Regions from separate parts of the Homo sapiens genome. Here regions 1 and 3 are each reported to be linked to region 2. Evidence: microRNA targets listed by miRTarBase, many of them from high-throughput screens and not tested one by one. Region 2 holds a microRNA gene; each other region holds the end of a gene's coding sequence.

What was found. Region 2 holds the annotated microRNA hsa-miR-188-3p (CUCCCACAUGCAGGGUUUGCA, at 2,758-2,778, opposite strand). A microRNA usually pairs through its seed, bases 2 to 8, with sites in the 3' UTR of a target mRNA and lowers its output. Matches are read on the target gene's strand: a 7mer-m8 pairs with bases 2 to 8, a 7mer-A1 pairs with bases 2 to 7 and ends in A, and an 8mer does both.
Region 1: the mRNA of NSUN4 is a reported target of hsa-miR-188-3p. Seed matches in the 3' UTR shown: 7mer-m8 at 6,334-6,340 and 7mer-A1 at 4,897-4,903.
Region 3: the mRNA of TM9SF3 is a reported target of hsa-miR-188-3p. Seed matches in the 3' UTR shown: 7mer-m8 at 6,198-6,204.

Annotation. Positions count from the first base shown.
Region 1 is chr1:46,360,937-46,368,975 of GRCh38, reverse strand. It overlaps NSUN4 (NOP2/Sun RNA methyltransferase 4), which reads right to left. Exons shown (of 6, transcript NM_199044.4): 6 at 3,958-7,406. The coding sequence ends at 7,130. Among named protein-coding and RNA genes, the nearest start is that of NSUN4, 24 kb to the right of the region's middle. RefSeq lists a silencer at 4,073-4,273.
Region 2 is chrX:49,998,295-50,006,333 of GRCh38, reverse strand. It overlaps MIR188 (microRNA 188), which reads right to left and starts at 2,831; the gene lies at 2,746-2,831. All of the region lies in intron 3 of CLCN5 (chloride voltage-gated channel 5), which reads right to left. It overlaps MIR532 (microRNA 532), which reads right to left and starts at 3,186; the gene lies at 3,096-3,186.
Region 3 is chr10:96,515,576-96,523,614 of GRCh38, forward strand. It overlaps TM9SF3 (transmembrane 9 superfamily member 3), which reads right to left. Exons shown (of 15, transcript NM_020123.4): 15 at 2,535-6,755. The coding sequence ends at 6,688. Among named protein-coding and RNA genes, the nearest start is that of TLL2, 5.7 kb to the left of the region's middle.

The DNA.
Region 1 (8,039 bases), not on the chromosome of region 2:
GATAAAACAGCATCAACAACCAGGGATCAGGGCAAAAGTCTGGACTTGATCCTGCTGGCAATGGAGAGAGAACAAAGGATCTTTCTGTAAAAATGGGTTCTCCCTATGTTGCTCAGGCTGGTCTCAAACTTCTGGCTTCAAGCGACCCTCCTGCCTTGGCCTCCAAAAGTGCCGGGATTACAGGCATGAACCACCATGCCCAGCCTAAAGAACAAAGAATTATAAGCAGATGAATGACACTCAGATTTGTGTTACTTACTAACACAAATGACATATGTTAAAATTTTATTTAAATTTACTTAACCATTTCCAAAACTTACTGGCTTAAAACAACCACTACTTTATTTGTTCATGATTCTGGAGGTCAGCGATTTAGGTTGGTCTTGGCTGGGGTCACTCATGCTGTTTGGGTCACCTAACCGTTTAACTGAGCTTAGGAGGTCTAAGACAGCTTCCAGCACATGTCTCCAGCAGATTGGTCCAGGCTTCTTCACAGAGCCGCAGAAGAGCTCCAAAATGAGCGTGGAAGTTGCGAGGCTTCTTGAGGCCTACATGCAGAAGTTGCACAGCATCCCTTCCACCAGACTTTACTGGTCAAAACAAATCATAAGATCAGCCCAGATTCAAGAGGTGGGGAAACAGACTCCATCTCTTAATGACAGAAGCAGCAAAGTCACATTGTACTGGGACAGGATGGGAGGAATTATTGTGATCGGCGATCACACAACAGATAAGGGGTGGCATGAGAGGATGGGGGAGAATGGAAGAATTTAGGGCTGATTGGAGTAATAGAAATGAGTTTTGAGGCTACTGCCTTTGATCAGTGAGAAATGATAAGGCCCTACCTAAGGTAGGAATGCTAGGAAGGAGAGAAATATAAGCGACATTTCAAGAAAGGAATTTCAGATTGTGGCTGGGCGCAGTGGCTCATGCCTGTAATCCTAGCACTTTGGGAGGCCAAGGCAGGCTGATCACTTGAGCTCAAGAGTTCAAGACCAGCCTGGGCAACATGGCGAAACCCCATCTCTACTAAAAATACAGAAATTAGCCAGGCGCGGTGGCATGTGCCTGTAGTCCCAGCTACTCAGTAGGCTGAGGCAGGAGGATCACTTGAGCCTGGGAGGCGGAGGTTGCAGTGAGCCGAGATCACACCACGGCACTCCACCCTGGTGAGAGCCAGACCCTGTCTTAAAAAAAAAAAAAAAAAAAAAAGAAATTTCAGATTGTAACTTTTTGAGTTACTTAAGCAATCTAAGCTTGTTTCCTTCTCTATAAAATGGGACTAAAAAGAGTATATCAGCTGACTCTGGATTTGCTGCCTATGAGTTAGCCTTACTCTGCAAGGAGCAGTACTGTTCAATAAAAGATTGCTGTCTAACACCACTAGCTTGCCCTTGAATTCTTTCCTGGCTTTCTCCCAGGCTAAGCCCCAGTTTTGAGGCTTGCCTGCCCTGCAATAAAAACACACCATAAAAATAGTGCAAAGAAAAGCCACAAAATGGATGAAAATGTTCAAATTAACGAATAACTCTTTCAAAGTTTTATAATAAATAGGCAACAACAAAAAAGAGCATATCCCAGGGTTTCTGTGAAAGTAAGAAACAATGATGTAAGTAAAACAATGCTTTTTTCACATGGGCCTGGCTCAGGTACGTTCGATATACAGTAGTGATTACTGTCACTGCATCAAGGATAGCTGCAGTTTCTGGCATGGGCAGCAGGGTAAAGGGTGGTGTTAAGTTTGGAGATGAAGAATGCAGATGGGAAGAAGGGCAGATTGGCAGGGGTGAGAGTGGTGATTTGAGTTGTTACTGGGGTCTCTGCTTGACCCCCTTGCCTTCCACTAAAGACCCTCAAATCTGAGATCTTCTAATCCAAAGGTTCTTAACTTGGGGGAGATAGGCCTTAGGAAGTACCAAAGCCCCTGAAATTATATGTAAAATGCTATGGTGTTTTTTGTCTTTATTTTTCTGAGAACGGCCAAAGCTTTTACCAGTCTCTCAAACAGATTTGTGACTCCTAAAAGGTGAAAACCATAGATCCAAGCTATCAATGTATATTGACCCATAACTGCCCCAATACCTGACCCTCTGCTGTGGTTCAACTGTTGCAAATCACAAGGAAAGAGGAGCTCATGAACAAGACTGAGGCAATACTGCTAAGCTTCCAGGTCTCTCAATATGATCCCTCCTACATTAAGCCATATTTTGCATTATTATTCTCTGTGGGCTTGGTTCTCTACCCACTTTTTTTTTTTTTTTTTTTTTTTTTGTATTTTTAGTAGAGATGGGGTTTCACCATGTTGGCCAGCCTGGTCTCGAACTCCTGACCTCAGGTGATCCACCTGCCTTGGCCTCCCAAAGTACTGGGATTACAGGCATGAGCCACCATGCCACCATGCCCAGCCAACCCCCTTCTCTTTTTTTAGGGAGACCTCAGATGTACAAAATTGAATTAATCATAATCTTTGTTTATAACATACTTTTATCACTTTTGTCATGAATAACAAATTTTTATGTATAACTTTTTATTAACTTAGCTGCTTTTAATAATTCAATAAGCACCAAACATAAAAGCTAGAGCCTTAACAATAATCTAACTTTATGTTCCCTCCAGCCCCATCCTATCCCCCTACCTCTAAGAACCATTATACTGAATTCCATAGTGAGAACCATTCTTTCCTTCTTACATGGTTTTACTGCATACATGTTCTTTTTACATGTTTTTAAATTCTTAATTGTATTTAATTTTATAGCATCACTACTCATTAGAGAAATGCAAATTAGGACCACAACGAGGTATCAAGATACATCCACTAGAATGAAGTTTTTATTTATTATTTATTTTTGAGACAGAGTCTCCCTCTGTTGCCCAGGCTGGAGTACAGTGGTGCAATCCCAGCTCACTGCAACCTCTACCTCCTGGGTGCAAGTGATTCTCATGCCTTAGTCTCCCAAGTAGCTGGAATCACAGGTATGTGCCACCACACCCGGCTAATTTTTGCATTTTTAGTACAGACGGGGTTTTCCCATGTTAGCCAGGCTGGTCTTGAACTCCTGACCTTAAGTGATCCGCCCGCCTCGGCCTCCCAAAGTACTGGGATTACAGACATAAGCCACACTGCCCGGCCCACTACAATAAAGTTTAACGTTGATAATCCTAAGTGTTAGTACTAAGATGTGGAGCAAATGGACCTCTCATACATTGCTGATGGCCGTGCAAAATGGTAGATCCACTTTGGAAAACAGTATGGTGGTACCTTATAAAGTTAAACATACATTTACCATATGACCTAGCAATTCTACCCCTAAGTATTTACTCAGAAGAAAACATGGGCTGGGCACAGTGGTTCACACCTGTAATCCTAGCACTTTGGGAGGCCGAGGTAGGTGGATCATCTGAGGTCAGGAGTTCGAGACCAGCCTGGCCAACATGGCGAAACCCCGTTTCTACTAAAAATACAAAGAAATTAACCAGGCATGGTGGTGGGTGCCTGTAATCCCAGCTACTCAGGAAGCTGCAGCAGAAGAATCGCTTGAACCTGGGAGGCGGGGGTTGCAGTGAGCTGAGATTGCACCATTGCACTCCAGCCTGGGCAAAAGAGTGAGACTCCATCTCAAAAAATAAAAAAAGAAAAGAAAACACGTACTCACAAAATTATATGCCCAAAAGGTATTGGCAGCATTACTAATAATAGCCCCAAACTGGAAGCAACTCAAATGTCCATCAACTGGTGAACAGATAAACAACATGGTGGTATGTCTGCACCATGGAATACAATTCAGCAATAAAAAGGAACAAAACATTAATACTCACAACAAACTGAATCTCAAAAACATTACACTAAGTCAAAGAAGTCAAACACCAAAGACTACATATTGTATGATTCCATGTATATATGCAAAAATTTTCCAAGACCAAATATTTGAAAGGATTATCCAGGCTTCACAGAGCATAATCACTTAAGATTTTTATTTAAAGGCAAAGGATACAGGGCAGCAAGAGAAAGACTAGGTAGGTAAACATCAGGAATCTCAGAATTCCCAAATACAAGCTCCCCATGGTCCTTATGCACATGTGGACTGCACTGCAAAGTGCCTTTGGATTGAATCATCATGATCTATGTGAGGCATCCATCCTGGTTTTGGAAGAGCTCAAATCAGAAGTTCCCAGCAGGGCTTTTATGTTGCTCTGGCCATGTAATCAAGCCAGACATACGTAACTGGTTAGACCAGCTGCAAATAATCAATAAAAGGAGTGACCAGTGGAGCTTCAGACTTTATTTATTTATTTACTTATTTATCGAAATGAAGTCTCTTGCTGTCGCCCACGCTGGAGTGCAATGGCGCTATCTTGGCTCACTGAAACCTCCACCTCCCAGGTTCAAGCAGTTCTCCCGCTCCAGCCTACTGAGTAGCTGAGATTACAGGCACCTGCCATCATGCCCTTTTGTACTTTTATAGAGATGGGGTTTCACCACGTTGGCCAGGCTGGTCTTGAACTCCTCCTGACCTCAGGTGATCCACCTGCCTCAGCCTTCCAAAGTTTTGGGATTACAGGCGTGAGCCACCGCACCTGGCCGAGCTTCAGACTTTAAACAGCACATTATAAATCCCAATGCCTTTTTTTTTTTTTTTTTTTTTGAGACAGAGTCTCACTCTGTCACCCTGGCTGGAGTGCAGTGGCACAAAACGGAGTCTCACTCTCTTGCCCAGGCTGCTCACTGCAGCCTCAAACTCCTGTGCTCAAGTGATCCTCCTGCCTCAGCCTCCTGAGTAGCTGGGACCACAGGCACATGCCAGCGCACCCAGCTAATTTTTTTTTTTTTTTTTTTGGTAAAGACCAGGTCTCACTACATTGTCCAAGCTGATCTAGAATTCCTGGGATCAAGTGATCTTCCCACCTTGGCCTCCCAAAGTGTTGAGATTACAGGCGTGAGCCACTGTGCCTAGCCTATTTTCTATTTTCTACATCTTGATGGTGACTATACTATTATATACAATTATCAAAATTTATTAAACAATATATTTAAAATTTATGAACTATATTGTATGTAAAGAATAACTCCATAGAAAAGAAAAAACCTTTCATTTAGAAAGGGCATCATGCTACATTTACTCTTCTGGGATTAAACTTTTTTCACTTAATTATTTTATTGCTCAGATTCATCCATATGGTTAGGTATCATTATAGTTCATTTGACAATTGTATAATGTTCTATTATGTGAATATTCCAGTTTACTTGTCCACTCTCTTGCTCATGGGCATCTGGGTTATTTCTAGGCTTTTGCTTTTGTGAATAGGGTTGCTATGAATATTCTTGTACACATCTCCTGGTGTACATGTATGAGTTTCTCTAGGATTTATCCCCAGTATTGGATTAACTGGGTTATAGGGTAGCTGAATGTTCAATTACAGCAGATAAACTGTTTTCCAAAGTAGTTCTCTGCTTTTCTTATCTAGGTCTGCCTGTCCCCAATTAGATGATGACTCTAGAGGCAGGGGACCCTCTCATTTTGAATTACCACTGCTTAGCATTCAATTAGCACTAGGCTGGATATCCAGGAGTCCAAGGGCAGAAGCCCAGGCACCTGAGGCCTCTTAGCCTCAGCGAATACTAAGTACTATACAGAGTGAACAGCATGCAGGGACCATATGCCACGCACGGAGGCGGTTACGGTCCTACTCAGAGCACTAGCCATGCTCCTTAAAGCTCCATCTTCCTAGCTTCACCTGATTTTGAGTCTCAGAGATCTTCCAGGGCCCTCAATTACAATGCAAATCCCAAAAGAAGGCTTAACCTCAGCTAAAGTCCCTCCTCAACTGACACCTCTAATACCCAAATAAGGATGAGCAGGAAAGACAGAAGGGACAAAAAGAGTGGCAGGAAGAGGAGGAATAAGGAAAGTGGAAAAGCCAAGAAGCCTTCAGGTATTCTAAAATTATATACCCTTTTCTGCACAGGATGTTTTCCAGGAAAAAAAAAAAAAGTTTAAAAATAAAATATCTGCAAGTGACCCTGAGCAATTTTTTATATCCCTGCCACTAAAGGTTACTTTCTTTTGGCTAAAGTTACAAAAACAACATATCGAGTATGCAGTCAGTAAATGATGAAATCTTGCCCTGAACACAGTGTGTGCAGTGAAGCCCTGTGATGCTGAGGGAAGAGTTAGGGATTAGGGGGTGGGCCAAAGAACAGGCACCAGAGCTCAGCTGCAGACTAGAAACAACAAAAAGTCTGGAATCCAACAAAACAAAACATCAGGAAATTCCTAGGTGTTCAGAAAGCAAAAGGAGAGTTACCATTCTAAAGGATGAGGAAGCCCAGTAATCTCCCACAATCCCAACTGCTACATCTCCAAGAGCTCCCTAGCTACCTGTCATACACGAGGTCTGGGAATACCTGCTAGATGAATGAACAAAGAACAAGGCACGCACAAGAGTATGACGGTTTTGTGGCAGAAGCAGCCTCCTAAGCCACATTTGGGCAGCAGTATTGTTGACAGCAGGAATGGCCAGAATTATTCAGCTCAGAGGGTTTTTCCAATGTGAGTAGGTAAGCAGATTATTTTGCACTGGCTTAACATTTTTAGTTACTTGTTCCTTAAATTAGATCATGAGCCATATGGAAAAACCAGGCGGGCTTAATTGAGCCTGTTGGCTGCTCAAGACTGGTCAGGTGGAACTCACTTCAAGGGTGACAGGGGCTCAGTAACTGGCTGGTACAAATGGAACTAATGGCATTTGCACTGACATGAAGTCCCCAACTGCAGCCCCAGGTCTATAGAGTTTCAACAACTTTATTGGCCAAATGCTTCTCCTATGTTTACAACTTAGTGTGAGCCTGCTCACTGGCTTCTCCTTCTAAGCCCCTAAGCGGGCAGCAAACTTTAGTACAGGCCTGGAGATGGGGTAGGGGTTAATGAGTGAGTTGGAAACCTGCTGATGCTCCACAATTGGACAGCAGGACAGCAAATCTTCTACTTCTTATTGCCGAAAACTGCAGAAAGACACGAACAGGATGGAGACAGGACCGAGAGTGCATCTCTGCCACTGGTCCCAGTTTCCAGTTTCTGGTGCATCCAACAGAGTATACCCTTTGTATTCTTGCTTCAGGGATTGGGTGATACTATGTCAGCCTACGCATTTTGCAGAAGTACATGGGGCCAAAATTGGCCATGAGGTTTGGTATTACCAGCTCCCCAACCTGACAGGATGAGAAGAAACAAAATGTGTCCATGAAAACCCTTCGGAAGTGAGTCAGATCTTCCACCTGTACCTGGATGCTGTATTGATTGGCCAGGAGCTCAATGGCACCTTGCACCACATACTCGTTCTGTAAGTGTGAGAGTGAGCAGGTAGAATAGACAACATGGCCTCCTGGTTTGGTGGCAAGGAGTCCAGCCCTGAAACCAGAAAGAGACAGAAGCAGTTACTAGTGAGCTTCCCAGCAGTAGAAGAGCAACATAAGGAGCTGGAAACATGGATAAGGGAAGGCTACTACAGGATGGGTAGCTGGTTAGACTGCCTCTCAAGTCCCTTCCACAATGACACTGTCTGAAAAGTCACTCTCAAGGCAGATAGCAACCCAACCTTACTCCATGAGCTCTTCACTAGGAAGTCTCCTTACAATGACCCCCTGAGCTCTTGTTTATGGACCAAATTGCTATGCTGGCTATAGAATGAGTCCTTACTCTAGCAGCTATTTTTCAAACATGTGCTACTCACTGGTACTGAGGATGAAATAGCATGAGTCAATCTGTGCAGCCCACTCTAGTATATATATCCTACTAGATAGGGTTGCTTTTTTGTTTTTGTTTTTGTTTTTTGAGACAGAGTCTTGCTCTGTTACCCAGGCTGGAGTGCAGTGGCACGATCTCAGCTCACTGCAGCCTCCACCTCCTAGGTTCAAGTGATTCTCCTCCCTCAGCCCCCTGAGTAGCTGGGACTACAGGTGTGCATCTCCACACCCAGCTAATTCAAATAGGGTTTTTATGTTCCAGAGATGATCCCATTTCTGTCTCCTCTAGGCAGATCTC
Region 2 (8,039 bases):
GCTACAGATTAAAGAGGCAGTGTCAGCATATGTACCCAACTCATATGTGACAAAGAGGGAAGAGAGGGCTCAGTCTCCTACTCCTCTTTCTCTCACACTTCACATGCAATGTATCAGTAAACTCAACTGGCTGTAACTTTAAAATATAACCACTTTTTACTACCTTCACCACGATCACCCTGATGTAGGCCTCCATCCATCTCTCAACTGAATTATTTCAATGGCCTCCTAACTGGTCTCCCAGTTTCTGCACTTTCTCCTCCTATTTGCCATACAACAGTCAGAACCATACTTGTGAAGCAAAGACACAGAAAACTGTAATCCTGATTTTGAATCAGAAGTATAATGGAATCATGATGTATTTATCTAGAAACAAGAAAACACAAAAACAAAACATTTTTCTGTTCTGATCATTGTAGAAGCCTAAATACAATGACCAATCCAGAGGCAAATATGGTCTTTAAATATCATGTCTGATTAAAAGAAACCAGGGCTTCTTGAAGACATGGCAGATTCCAGGCCTGGGGAAGGTATCTGCGATGAGCTTTGTACATTTTTTTCATCTCTGAAAGCGGAGAAGCTATCAGATAACTACGGAGGCATGTCAAAAGGACTGAGGAACCAATTTGAAGAAGCTCCTACTGGCTAAAGATGGGGCACTGGAGCTTCACTGAAGGCAAGAACTGCAATGGATTAAAAGTCCAAATATATTTAAATCTATGAGTTTATTATAATAGTTTTTTTAAAAAATCCTCTTTAGAGTAAGCTAGTGAACCAACTCATTATTCTGAGTACTGATAAATAAAGAGAACCAAACATTTATCCTATCTTGCCTATAAAGACGGCAACACTGGGTGATCAAATAGCAGATGAAGGGAAGTTTTTCTTTATAGAAGTATTCCAGCTAATAAATCAAGAGAATAATGGGATTAGAATATCATCATTTTGCAACCCCTAATGAAATAACGGCTCTAAGAATTGAGCATCGGTGGCAACTAACATCACAGAAAGATGATCATCAGTTATTTTGTGCCTCTTAATGGAAGTAGTTCTGCTCCCCCTTCCTCAAAATTAAGCCTGAATTTGATCAGGCTTCCAGATGCAACTATCAGTTTACAGGAAATACAAACAAGGAGAAGGAACATGTAAACTACATCACAGGGATGTGATCACAAAAATCCAGACTATGCAAAACTGTATAGGATGAATGGCCCACTTTCTTCCAACAAATAAATTATAAGGAAAGAAAAAATATAGATGGAAGGGAAAGATATAATTCAAAGGGACTTAAGATACATATCAACCAAATGCAATGCATGGACCTTATCTGGATCCTAATTTATGATATTTCTGAGACAAGTGGAAATGGGAACAACAGATATGTGATGATATTAAAAAATTGTTGGCAATTTTTTTTCTTTTTGAGATGAAGCCTCGCTCTTGTCACCCAGGCTGGAGCGCAGTGGCACGATCTTGGCTCACTGCAACCTCCGCCTCCCGGGTTCAAGCGATTCTCCTGCCTCAGCCTCCCGAGTAGCTGGGATTACAGGCACCTGCCACCAGGCCTGACTAATTTTTGTATTTTTAGTAGAGACGGGGTTTCACCATGTTGGCCAGGCTGGTCTTGAATTCCTAACCTCAGGTGATCTGCCTACCTTAGCCTCCCACAAAGTGCTGAGATTACAGGCATGAGCCCCTGTGCCTGGATGGTAATTATTTTTAAGTGTGATAATGGTATGATTTTTTTTTTAAAAGCGGCCTTAGATTTTAGAGATACATAGTAATTATCAGCTTTCCCTTTTTCCATTGTAACTTACTACTTCCCAGCCCTATGCTTCTGCCACAATGGCTCTTTGTTGTTCCTAGAACACAGTAGGCCTTTCCTGACTACCCTATTTGATATCGAAACTTCTCCACCACCATCTATGCTGTAACTACCCCCACCCACTCCTTGTCCCCTTTTCCTGCCTTATTATTCTCCAGAGCACTTATCAACAATTGGCACACTATCTATTACTTACTTATTTTGTTCACTACCTGCCTCCCCTCACTAGGGCAGGGATTCTTGTCTTTTGGTCACTGGTGTATCCCTGGTGCATAGGGGAGTACCCAACACACAGTAGCTGCTCGATAAATATTTGCTGAATGAATGAGTGGCTCACCAAATGAATCGGCTGCAAATCCTGGGTCTGGGGAGATAACAGAGAAAACTCACAATCTGACTCATATCTACATGAGTGTCTAAGAAGACAGATCTTCACACACCCTCTTGAGCAAACAAGTGTGCATATGGAAAGGCATGGCACAGTGAGTGGATTCTACTTTCTGAACCCAAAATGTGTGTGCATATTACATCTTTGCATATGGTTATGATATAGACACAATTTTCCTCACAAACTGGGTTTGTGAGAATTAGCTAGAAGACTCCCTTTTCATCATGCCCCATGTACAGGAGTCCTGAGAAGGTTCTCTCTCCTCCTCTAGGTGCCGCTAAGACAGAACCAGGTCAAAAGACCCCCCTTCCTTCTCTAGGCTGTGCCTATCCCTGAGTATGAGGGGCTGCACCATGTGCAAGAGAAAGCTAAGAGAAGTCTCCCTCTCCTGCAGGATCCATGTAAGACTGAGATGGGAGAAAGGACATGGCTGAGAGTCATTCTCCTTCCCACCACATGGGTGTGTGTTTTTCTTTTGGTGAAGGAGTGCGTATGTGTATATACACATGCACAAGAGAGCAAGGAAAGCTGAGGCTCGCCATCCTGCAAACCCTGCATGTGGGAGGGGTTTTCAGAAAGCTCACCCTCCACCATGCAAGGGATGTGAGAGAGGGAGCAGGGAAGGGCTTGCTCTCTTGGCACGACATATGGGTATGCTCTAGGAGGCAAGAGGCACTGGCCTGGGGGGTGCAAGTGGGCAGCAAGATAGCCACAGGAGTGCTGATGGGTAAACTAGGAGCAGTGGCCATGGAAGCAGGACAGTCATCCAGATGGGATGGCTGCTAACAGTGTACCCCACATACAGAGCACGTAAGAGAGGGTCTACCTCCCTTTGGTGTACCTGTCCATGTGCTCATGCCTATGCACTGGAGAGGGAAGAGAAGGCTCGCTCTTCTGCAAGCCTTGGGTGTGGGAGGGTAATTAAGATGCCAACGGTCCTACACTCAAGGCATGGAGGAGAGAAAGCAAGTCGGGAGGTCTGCTCTCCTGTATACTGTGTGCATGCGTATCCCAGATGCCTTGGACTTCTATGACTGTGCCCCAGACATGCTGTAATGAGAAGGTGTGCTTGTGTACATTCACATATGTACCTTCAGAAATGTTCACTATCTACAACATATTTGTTTTCCTTCCTTCTTTCTTTTCCTTTATTTTTATTCCTAACACCAGTATAGTATTTACATTTGCAGAGCACTGTTTTAAGTGCTTTTCACACATAGCTCATTTATTCTCATAAAATATCCATGAGGTGATCATTATCCCTATTTTACAGATGAAATAACACACATACGAGAACAGATGGTAAGAAAGCTTAGAATCTGGCATGCAGGTCATTAGAAAGAGGACTCAAAAAAGGAGGCTCAAGCTCTCAGCCACCAACCACTTTGTGTCCACACACACACCACACACACACACACACACACACACACACACACACAGAGAGAGAGAGAGAGAGACAGAGACAGAGACAGAGACAGAGAGACAGACAGACAGACAGACGCAAGAGAACTTGCACTTGTCAGCCCAGGGAAAAGCTGGATTAGTGTGGAAATAATAGAGGAAGTGAGAAGTATGAGAAGTGGCTGTGTGGTCAGATTAGACATGTATTTTGAAAGTAGAGCCAACAAGATTTGACAGCAGTTTGTATTTGGAGAATGGAGGGGAAAAAGTGTCAAAGATGAATCCAAAACCTTTAGCTTATTAAAATTCTCCATATCCTTGGCATATGCAATTGGGAAATGCTGTTTGCTGAGTTGGAGAACACAGAGGGAGGAGTAGGGCTTTTTGAGAGGGGGAGGAAAACCAGGACCTCAGCTTTGGATGTGTTAAAGTTTTGAGATACTTATTAGACATTCGGGGCAGATGTCCAGTACATAGTTGGACATAGGCATCTGGAATTCAGGAGAGAAGTCCAGGCTGGAAATACAAACACAGAAATCATCCACATAAAATGGTACTTAGAGTTGCAAGACAAGATGAGAACAGCTGAGGACTAATGAGAAGTTAAAAAAAAAAAAAGAAGTCTGAAGACTAAGCCCTATATCTCTTTAATACTTAGAATTCAGGAAGAGGAGGAGAAACCATCAAGAGACTGAGAAAGAGAGGCTTGTGAGGTAAGAAGACAACCTCATGAGTGTGGAATCCTGGAAAGCAGGTAGAGTCTCAAGGCAGAGGGAGTGATCAACTGTGTGTTGATCTGTCAAGTAAGATGACAACATTGCCCAGTAAATTGGGAAATGTGAAGGACACTGGGGACCTTGACCAGGGTCATTTAAGTGCTGCAGGTTACAGTTTTACATGGAGGGTTTTCAAGAGTAAATGGGACTAACATTTAAGTCTTTAATCCATCTTGAATTAATTTTTGTATAAGGTGTAAGGAAGGGATCCAAGGACAGAAAACCAAACACCACATGTTCTCACTCATAGGTGGGAATTGAACAATGAGAACACTTGGACACAGGAAGGGGAACATCACACATCGGGGCCTGTCATGGGGTGGGGGGAGGGGGGAGGGATAGCATTAGGAGATATACCTAATGTAAATGACAAGTTAACGGGTGCAGCACACCAACATGGCACATGTATGCATATGTAACAAACCTGCATGTTGTGCACATGTACCCTAGAACTTAAAGTATACATTTAAAAAAAAGAGTAAATGGGAGAAATAGAAGTAGAGATGGAGTACAATCAGCTCCTTCAAAAAAATTTTTTTTTTTTCTGTAAAGAGGAACAGAGAAATGAGTAGAAACTGGAGGAGCTTTTTGGGTAGAGAAGGTAGTGCTTTTTAATTTTTAAAATTATTTTTAGACAGGATATGTGGCAGCACATCTAGATATTGGTACAAACACTCCAGTATACAAAGAACAGTTGATGATGCAGTAAGGAGAGGGGGATCAATTGCAGGAGCACTGTCACTGAATAGGTGACAGGGGTTGAAATCTAGTATACAAGTGGAGGAACTGGTCCTGGCTACATGTGCCAGTAATTCATCTACCATAATGGGGAGGAGCTGACACTTAGGGACATGTGCAGGTAATGGAGGAGAGGTCAGAGGAACTTCAGAGGGTCCCTTCTGATGGCTTCCATTTTCTCAAGGAAGAAGAAAGCAAAGTCAGCAGCTGAGAGTGAGGAGGAAGGAAGGGAGGTGACACTGCAGATTTGAGGAAAGGAAAGAATTATGAAACAGTCATCCAAGGCAGTACTTCCCAAACATTTTCAAATAATGGGACCAAGCAGCTTAGGTGTGAGTTTTCTTCTATGGAGAATCAGTTGCTCCAGGCAAAGCATATGGATTAAGGAAGTTTATTACATGTTAATCCCAATACATGCGTCGCCTCCTTCAGTGCTTATTACAAACCTATATGGTTGGCACAATTAGTTATCTCATTTTCATGTTGTGGAAATTGAGACACAAGATAAGTCACTTGTCTAGGATCACAAAGCTCATTACAGATCACGCCAGGATTCTACCACAGGTAATCTGACTACCAAGACAGTGGGCCTAACCACTGAACCCTAAAGCTGTGTGTACCCACATGTGTATGAGAACTGAAAATGATAAGGACCCACTTTCTGGCACATCCTTGGCACACACATGTGAGATGAGGGAGGAAAAGGAAGAGAGAAAGAGCAAGGATGGAGAATAAGGAGGCTCAAGCTCCTATCATAAATGTGTGTGGGGGCATGCACAGAAAAGGGGTAATAAGGTGGCTGACACAGTGGTTCACACGCCACTGTGGCCCAGCCAGTGTGTGCATTGGGAGGTTGTAATAACCTCCCAATTGGGAGGTCAGTTTTATTTTAGGTTAAGCCATGCGTGGGGTAGGAGAGTGGCAGCAATAGAAGGCTCACAGTCCTGCGATGCTGGATGCAATGGGGCAACTCAGGTGTCTCCCTTACATGCATATCATGAGTGTATGCACATGAGAGAAAGAAAGAGAAAAGCAGGATTAGAGAGAGAGGCTGCAAGCAGGAGGCGGATGGGGAAACCCACAGTCCAACAGGTTTGGGGAAGCATATTTAAAATAAAAAGCTCACTGTAGTTCTGTGTGGTCAAGGTGGGATGGGATAGCTTGAGAGGCTTGCACCCCTGCATGGGGCAGGAGAGCTGGGGGAGTGGAGAGCAGAGACAGGGCAGATATAGGAAGAATGCTCACTGATGAATCCTAGCAAATTTTTAAAATATCATAAATTTCATACTATTTTTACAATGTAAATAACTGTCATTCAAACAATGCTCCACAACCTTTAAAACAAGTAAAAAAAGGGGCTTTTAATGTACAGACTAAGAAAGCAAATGTATTCGTTGTAGCACAATTCTCATATTCTATTCCGCAGGTATCAGCTGCTTGACAACACCAACTATAGTGAAAAGAGCCAAATATGTGTTCACACTGACACTTTTTCTTTAGTCTTTAAACTTGCTGGCCAACAGAGTATAGCTTAGAAACTGCCCACCATCCTTAATGGATCAACTGCCATTTCTGAACTTATTTTTCCCCTCAGCTAAAAGGGGCAGATTATTTTTTTTATTCCTCAACACATCTACCATACAAAGCAAACACTAACAGGCCGAAGGATTCATCTCCCTCGTGGTGTACATGTGTGTACACATGTGAAGGCACATGTGCCTGTGCCAGAGCCAGTTTTTTTAGGCCCACTATCCTTCAAATACTTCAACTCAGCAAGTTAAAAAAAAAAAAAAAAAGCAAAGTCCACTCTCCAATAATGCATGCTTGTGGGAAGAGCACTAAGAAGGCATGCTGGGTTTAAGAGGCAGGGCACAGCTCAGAAAGCTTGCACATCTGTAAACCTCATGTGTGGGAGGGAACTGAGACAGCTCACACCCCAATGTGTGAGGCATGTGAGACAAACAGGTAAGGAGTCACCTCCTCTCTCCCTCACAGACAGAGGATGTACACAGACGTAGGTCTAAGGAGGCGTGGGGTGATCAGGAGCCTCATCATCTTGTACTCCTGTGTGCATCATCTGTGTCGGGGGTGGGGAGGGTGTCCCATAATAATGCTCACTCTTGCCAACAAGGCCTGTAAGAAGGGCACTAAACAATCTCGACTCTGGATGCTGGGTGAAAAAAAGCAAGGGGGCACATAGCCTATGGCGGGGGGGTGGCACTAGAAAATTCACTCTCCTGTAAGTTGTGTATATAAGAGTGGAATTAAAAAACACACACACTACCATTCAAGGCAAATGGGAGGGTGAACACATCAGATGTCTCAGACTGTGTGTGTGTGTGTAGAAGACTCAAGCCAGCAAACCCTTTGCAGTGTCATGCATGGGTGAAGGAGAGAAATAACAAGAAGGCAAGATGGCTTGCTCTCCCACAGACTCCACAAATAGGAATGGGATCAGGAAAGCTCTCTCTCCTACAGTCAAGACATATAGACGAGTGGTGGAGTCAGCAGGTTCTTCTTTCTGGCACTCTGAGTGTGAGAGGGAAGGAGGGAGGGAGGGAAGTAGAGAAGGCACATTAAGGTTCATTTGCCTGCAAACTTAAAATGTGGGAGGGGGATTGTGAAAATCCACACTCTGACACTTTGGGCCCGAAACGTACCAAGCAGGTCAGAAAGCAGGCGTGCTGCAGGCCTGAGGTAGAAGGCTTGTTTATCTGCACATTTTGTGTGGATCTGCTCAAAAGGAGGCTCACTTTGCAGCACTACGTCTATGTGGGTGCCCACAAAATGGCAGGAGCAGAGGGGGTGGTGAGAGAGTAAGTGAGAAGGGTCCAGTGACCGTACCCCATTAAGTATATATTCCTGTGCATGTATGAGCAGGAATATGCAAACAGGAAATGGGGCTCAGGCT
Region 3 (8,039 bases), not on the chromosome of region 2:
GCACTAGGCAAACCACCAACTGGCTTCCTTATTAGAAGGGAATTCCTCTGGAAAATAGACATGAGAGGCCACCTCTTGTGCAAGCAATGAGGTTGTGAGCTTTTATGACCTCTAATGCCCAGCTGGTGAGTAGTGGCCAGGTCTTCTCACCAACACCCTTTGTCCAAATATTTTGAAGACAGTGGTGTTGAAGAATGAACAAGCTGCACAGTTTTATGTTATTAAAGTAGAAGGCCAGTTTAGTTGCTACTTTGGCTATCAACCAATAAATGGCAACAAAATATTTGGTTCACTAGAAAGATCAGAAAAGAATAATTGAAAAGGGACACCATAAGATAGAACTATAAAAGCTAAACTCTAATCTGGGTTTAGATGATTTTTATAATGTATTTTTCTTTAATTTAAAAACCATGAAAAAACTGGAGGTAGAGTAACAGGCTTTATGACATAAAACTGCTCAACTTAGCTCCATTATTACATTAATAATTACTTCAGGGTTTCCTCTGCCATATCTCTGGGTCCTCTGTGAACCTGAACAAGTGTTTTTCTCCTCTTAGATGTCCATCTCCCACCCAGAGTAACTGGGTTCTCTTGCCCCTTCAAGTCTACTGAGTTTTATCCACCTGGGCCACTTTCTCATTTTGCCTTTCCAAGCGACTATACATGATAATTTGTTCCAGGCCAGCTCATTCCTTCATTTACATTGCTCACCACTGAGAAGATACTCAGTTTTCTGGAGAATGTAATTAAAGATACTACAATTTTTAGCAGCTGCTTAAAACCCTTCCTGGCTCTCCAAAACCTTTATTCAAGTTCTTCAGGGTGGCATAACAGGTCCTCCGTCCATCATCAAGCCTTCCTTTCACCTTTCCAGTCTTGGCTCCTTACAACTCCCACATTCCAGTCTTCTGGCATTAAAACACCCTGCAGTCATCCTAACAAGGCTGCTTCACACCCTCCATGTCTCTGCCTGGGACACACTGATAATCGCATATCCCACATCCTCATGCCAGCATTGCAGCTACCCTATCTGTGACACTTACCTATCCAGGACTGCCCTTTCTGGTCTATAACTGCAGCAGACCTCTCTGACCAACCCCAACTTAGAATCACCTTCCATGTCTCACTTTCTAGACTCTCCCTTTTCTTCACTGACCTTCAATATTAAGTCTTGCAATCCTAGTGGCTTAGACTGAGACACTAAGAATAACCATAACATTGGCCAGCCCCACTTATATCAATTTTCCCCTGCAACCATCTCCCACATTTTTTTCCTTTGAAATCGCTGTCAAGCAAAGTAATCGTGCAAACTTTGAAAATCATTTCAAATAATCAAGTAATTTAAAATACATTTGTAAACTACACTGATTCCACATGTCCCAATTAGGCTTATTCCCCCCTTTTCTAATGTTATATTGCAGAGTAACAGTTCCACAAAAATAGTTCACTTGAAATCAAGAAGCTGGCTGCATACGAGTCCCTTCTGTCCTTAGTTTTCCAACCAGACAAAAAGTGTTCATTAAAGAAATAAAAAGTAATCCAAATTTGTACCAATGATGTGGCTAACGGGAATTGCCAAGTACAGGTGTTGACTGAGGCACCTAATAAAACTAGGGGAAAAGAACCAAGGAGGTTGGTCAGGATTTTTAAAAACTAGTCAGAAACGGAAAAACAAAACATACAAATAGACATGGAGAAATTAACCACTGATTTCAATGTGGCACAATAAAAATAATCTCTTCCATTCGTATAGAACACTAATTTTCAATGTGACTTCTACATATATTACCTGCCTCCCAGGCTAGAGAGGGTGACACCCCCATTTTACAGTTACAATAGTCAAGACAACAGGGCCCTGAATCTTGATGACTTCTGGGCTAAACATAAGAGCACCTTTAGCTGTGGTTTCTTATCCATAAAACACAGCTATCTACTCTACCAGCTTCACAGGATGGTTGTGAAGGAACAAGTGAAACTGCTTTGAAAAAGTAGTAAATGCTAAACAAATGCAAAGAATCATCAATCAGAGGATGGCAGGCAAATAGATGGTAAAGTCTGAGTGTAAGAGTCAGAATAGGTATACAAAAAAGTCAAAAGAATGGCAATAAAAGAAAAATCATTCTTAAGAAAGACCAATCTTATTCACTGGACCATTCTCTCAACTTTACTGTATATTACAGTTCACTTTTGAAATACAAATTTAAACCTTAAATTTTAAATACATCATTCCAGGGGTTAGCGGACTATGGCCTGTGGGCCATTTTTGTGAAGTTATACTGGAACATAGCCATGCTCATTAGTTTATGTAGTCTACTATGGCTGCTTTGGTGCTACAACGATAGTTTCAACAGAGACTGCATAGCCCTCAAAGCTGAAAGTATTTACTATCTAGACCTTCACAGAAAAAGTCTGCAGACCCCTGCTTTAATTGTGGAAAACTATTACTAAGTTATTCATTTGCCTGTCAATAATGGGTTATCCCTTATGCTTGGTTCATGTTTCAAAAAGGAAAGAAATAAGGAATCCAAAGGAAGTACATTTAACTTTTTATTACTTTTTAAAAATCCAAATTCAGATAAATTAACACACTAGGTTAGAACCTCAATTGTATTTGATACATTATATACTGGATTTCTATTACTAAAAAGCCAGTTGGAATATGGCCTATACGAACCAAAGAGTGTATACAAAATGGAAGTGGTCATCAGGCAATAATTGTTTCCTTGGAACTCTGCACCGACTGTCCATGCTCTGTGGGGACTTACACATTCAAGTTTGACAGTTGAAAAACCAACTGGAGCTGCTTTTCCAAGAATGTTCTGTTGTCCTTCAAATAGAATTCCATGTTATTTCTTTCTTGCCTTAAGCTCTTATATCTTTCAAATGACCTAAGCTGATGAACTGGAGTAAACACAAACTGCTGCAGTTATCAATTAGCAAGCCTAGTTCACCAATACTTCAAAATAAACAGACTTCACAAGTTTATTTCCATTCCTAACAGTGGAATAATAACTTAATTTTGTTTACTTTTGTCTTTGTAGATTTCTGTCTGCAGCTCCAGTAAGAATGCCAAATCAGATGGCTTTTAGGAAATGCTCATAGGAGAGAACTAGAGTTATTCCTCACACTGAATTTAAGTCTTACCAGATTTCTGCAGGTTCATATGTTAACGTTCTGATCTAGCCTACCTGTAAGTCTAGTTTATTTCTGTACACACTTCCAAATACTCTTCATAAATTTTCACTTCTGACTGAAATATAACACCTTGATTGATAGTTTCATAACTATAGAATTTTAGTGAAGATATAAAACATTAATGAATACTTGTGTTTTAATACATCACTACTCCTATTTATTACATGTTCCAATAAACCAATAGAATGAAGCACTAAGACACGGTGAAATCTAAACTTAAAACCCAGATGGAACTGCCATATAGATTACAAATGGGTCTCCCCACCACAGAATTCATATACAAAAGCCCTTCGGTATGTAGCTTTTCCTGAACAAATACATTAATACACTTTTTGTTTTTTACATTTGTAAAAATTCAAGGTTTTAATAACATTTCTTTGCAAGACATTTGGTATAAGGTGGTTAATAAATATTAGGAAACAAACACTGTACCAAAATGGATATGACTTGTGAATAAACCCTAAATAAAGTGGCTTTTGGAAGAACTGGATTTTGCAGCAACCAACTTTATAAAGAGGTCCATCCACTCTCAATGGAAAACACCCAAGCATACCATTCACTAGGTTCGGATATCACCATAATATAATGAATTCTAAGAGTATGGGGTTTGATTTATGGGCAACCCCAGTACAATCTAGGAGCCCAACATGATGAAAAATACTAAAAGAATGCTTCACCATCCCTCAGGCCATTACATTTCCACCTTATCCTACTCTTGTATTAGGATATATGTATACAAATGTCAACTACTAATGTAGTTAAATTTCAGGAGAAGCATGCTTAAAGATACACAAGGAATGTTTAGCCTTAGTTTTTGATAGTATTATCCAAAGTGTGAGTTGAAAGAAATTAAGCAAATAATGTTAACAAACGAAAGACAGATACACAGCATTAGTGGGGGTATAAAAACCTCACCTTTCAATTAACTTGAATAATGTTCTATTTTCTATTCTACAACTGAGCGCTAGGGAGCTAAACTATTTGTGAATTACATCTTCTTTAAGAAGACACACACACACGCACACACATACATACACTTATTCAACCCCTCTATGCAGCCAAAAACCAATACAAGTCCTTTTCTAAAAGACTTTAAAGGTGATTAATATTCATTTAATGCTCTTAATGTATTTGGAAATCAGAAAATTATTTTTCACCACAGATTCCAAAGAACTTCAAATAGAGCTCAATTTAGTAGAAAGAATTGGTGTACCTGAAAGCATTTAACCCACACATTTTCAATAAACCCTACATCTTACCTGCAAGATTCATATCATGAGAAACAAATTTCATTTTATTAAGACAAAACCTTACTGTCCAATTTATACTCCCATCAGACAGACTATGTATTGGTATGTTAAAAGTACTTTTGAATAAAAGTGGTGAGAAAGAAACCAAAAAAGTACTTTATATATAGTTAAAAGGTTACATAATATAGGCAACTAAATATTAACTTTTAGTTTCTTTTTTATAAGATCTTAAAGGCAAGTAAGAAGGAAGAGAAAATGGAAGTACCAATAAATTATATTTAATATACCATTTTGGCTTCAGAAGAGGATTTACCTACAGCTTCTGATCAAATTTGTTGGATCATATCAATCATACTTAAGTGGTAAGAAATCATACTTTTCACCTTTTAAAGGACTTACATGTCACAATATAGGATGTAGAGTCCATCAATAGATAGGTACATATTTTGTAATGAAAACATCTTGTGTAACTATTAATTGCATGATTTTCATATTAAGGTTTAAATACAGGTGTTTTGAGTCTTTCTAAAAATAACAATATAAAGTATTGTTTTAGGTGGTCATTTGCATAGCAAACTATTAAACTAGAAACTCAGTGGTTCTAGGAAAACTTCATATTATGAATAGTTCCAGAAAAATGTATTCAAATCACTTCTCTTACAAAACTGTAACCTTTATTTGTTGATCCAACAGTACGTTAACCACTTTTACCCCATCCCCACTTTACACGGTACACCAACCTGAACAGATTTTGTGCCACAATTTCATTCAAAGGGTTTGTCATTCACTTTATGATTGTGCTGGATAATCTAGATGTAAGCAAGTCTGGAGATTTTAAAATACGGGTCCCCTGTATGAGAGTAGCATAGTTTATAGCATACTTTTAAAAATGGCATTCGGTAATTTTGCCTTCTGGACAGAAAGATATCTTCAAATTGCAAACACATCTATTTCCACAAAACAATTTGGTCAGGAAATTTTATTTGAACATTCTAAAGCAATAATGCTTTAGATGTTACTTAAGTGTCCCAGACAGGATTAACAAAATTAAGTGTCTCTAAATTACAAATTTGGCTCCTGTAGGAGTCTCAGAAAATAAACAGAAGAAAACAACCCCCCTCCCAAAAGAAGTATGACACACACATTTTGAAGAAACCCCAATGTTTCATGCAATGGTAGGCAAGATGTAAAAGCCCACCCAAATCACACATTTCTACACCAATCATCATAAGAAAAAAGTACTCTGTAGTCGATCTGTACATCCAAATGCATTTGGGAATCTACACCTACGTTACATTATTTAATGTTATATACATTTATTACCCACCCCCCTTGTTTTTAATAATTTCTTATGTAAAACCTTCATTCAAACCCAAAAGATTTAAGACTAACTTGGGGGGAAAAAAGATAATCACTTTAGACATTCAGTTAAAATGTAGTTTATCTAAATCTCAAAATGTTTAATAAAAACAAGTATCTTCTCCATTTAACACTTTGCTTTCTAACTGTACAGTAAATTGCATTGTAGAGAGTACACTTCTGTCTTCAAACTGTATCTTCTTTGGATGGAATTAAGATGTAACTGTATAGTTTTAAGATAAATAAATGGGAAGTTGGTCCAACTAAGATGACAGCAGATATATTACATGCAGGATTTAATATTTTCTAATTCTCTCTTTTAAAAAAAAGGATGCTGTTGGATTGGGAAAAAAAAAAAGTCAAAAAAGAACCCAGATTCAATATATAAAAATGTCCCACAATAGGTCGACAATGGCAGTAAAAATAAGAGGAAAAAAGTAATCTTTCTGGAACATCATTTTTCAATAACATAGAAACACTAAGTGCCAGGAAGATTCCTATTCATGTAATTTTAGCATCCAAGTTTCCCTCTATTTATTTTATTGGAACAAATGCTTTAAATAAACTATTTGTCCTCTTCACTGAAGAGAGCTGGTCTATTTCATCTTTAATGAGCTAGTTTTTGGGAAGATTAGCCATGTACTGTAGTAATGCCTACTGCATAAAATCCAAGCATTTGCTGTGAACAGTTGGAGAAAGCAGTCAGGAAGAACCTAGGATCAATGGAAATAGATGTTACTTTAAGCCACCGACGAAAGAGAGACCCACAAAGTACCCAGTGTGTTAAAGCCCAAATCTCTTCTTGCGTTTGTTTGTTTTTGCTGTGCAAGTTCCACCCCTATGAAAAAGAAATTGATCCAAAGTTCCAGGTTTTCTTGGGTCTCTAGTCAATTTTCACATTAGTATAGATTTTTCGGACAAAGGCACTTGTTCCCATGTAACCAATCGCTCCTGCAAAGATAAAATAAGATGTTTTGAAACAAATACATACAGAGCAGTATCCATCATTTAAAAACACTAAATACTCTATGCTCTGGAAAGTTATTCTTTTTTAAAGAAAATATCCTTATGTTAGTATTCTCTCTGAACTTACTAAAACTGTATCATTTGCTTTGCAAATCACCTGATACCATAATACACTGAGTCTGACCATCATACGCCAAGTCTAATCAAGTAGCAATTATTTCTTGTATAATCAGTAACTACAGAATTAAAATACATCTCTTATAAAGCAAGAATAATTTGATAATGGCAAAAGGTTGTTAAATCAAAAAACATGCCTTCTTTGATTTGAAGATATACTATTCTAGGTCATTAAAGTAAAAATCAATATATCTTCCCAAAATCCAATAGATAAATAGTTAGAAGTGACTGAAAATTCTCTTAAGGAAGGACAGGGAACCATGTCCCAATAGCAGTTGAAGCTCTAGAGAAGAGGCATTTTCTGACAGCTTCTTTTTTATTTTTAAGTTGTAGAAGCTGTGTAGTTGGTAGTAGGGATGACATATTTGCGGGAATAGACAGGACAGAGAGGTAAGTGGGTCAGAAGTTTTGAAATGTTGTTTTTTAACAATTAGCCTCAACCAGAGCTTAAAACACCAGAAATCAGGGATGTTTGTTTTGTTAAGTAAAATATTTATCTCCTGTGTCTAAAAGAGTGCCTGGCATATAAGATACTTGGTAAATATTTGTTGAATGAATGAATGAACTAGATGGTTCTTTATTGCAAATATAGGTTGGTGCAAAAGTATTTGCAGCTTTACAATTACTTTTGTACCAACCTACTAAGGGCTCTTTAGGACAATGCAGTTGGTTATTGAACTGTCAGAGAAGAAATCTCCATTGGCCTCAGGAATTTATGATGTAGCCCAATATTATTGAAAGCTTAAAAGAAAACCTTCCATTAATTAGTAATATTAAGTGCACACACAAATGCCTAGTCATCCTTGAACGAATCTTTTAGTGAATCTTTTATTCACTAAACTGGTGAATGAAAGGCAAGAATCAAGCATCTCTCCTGTTTCTCCTATGTATGAACTATACCCCAAGGCTACCAACTGGTTGATGAAAGGAAGGTTATCCTTATGGAAGTATTCCAGCTAACAAATATAAAAGGAACAACAGAATTAGAATATTATAACCACTAATGAATTATTTGAGCTAGGCAATAACTATCAATGGCTGCTAACTTCACAAAGAAATAGAACCAGAAATTATGTGCTTTCCTGATAAAAG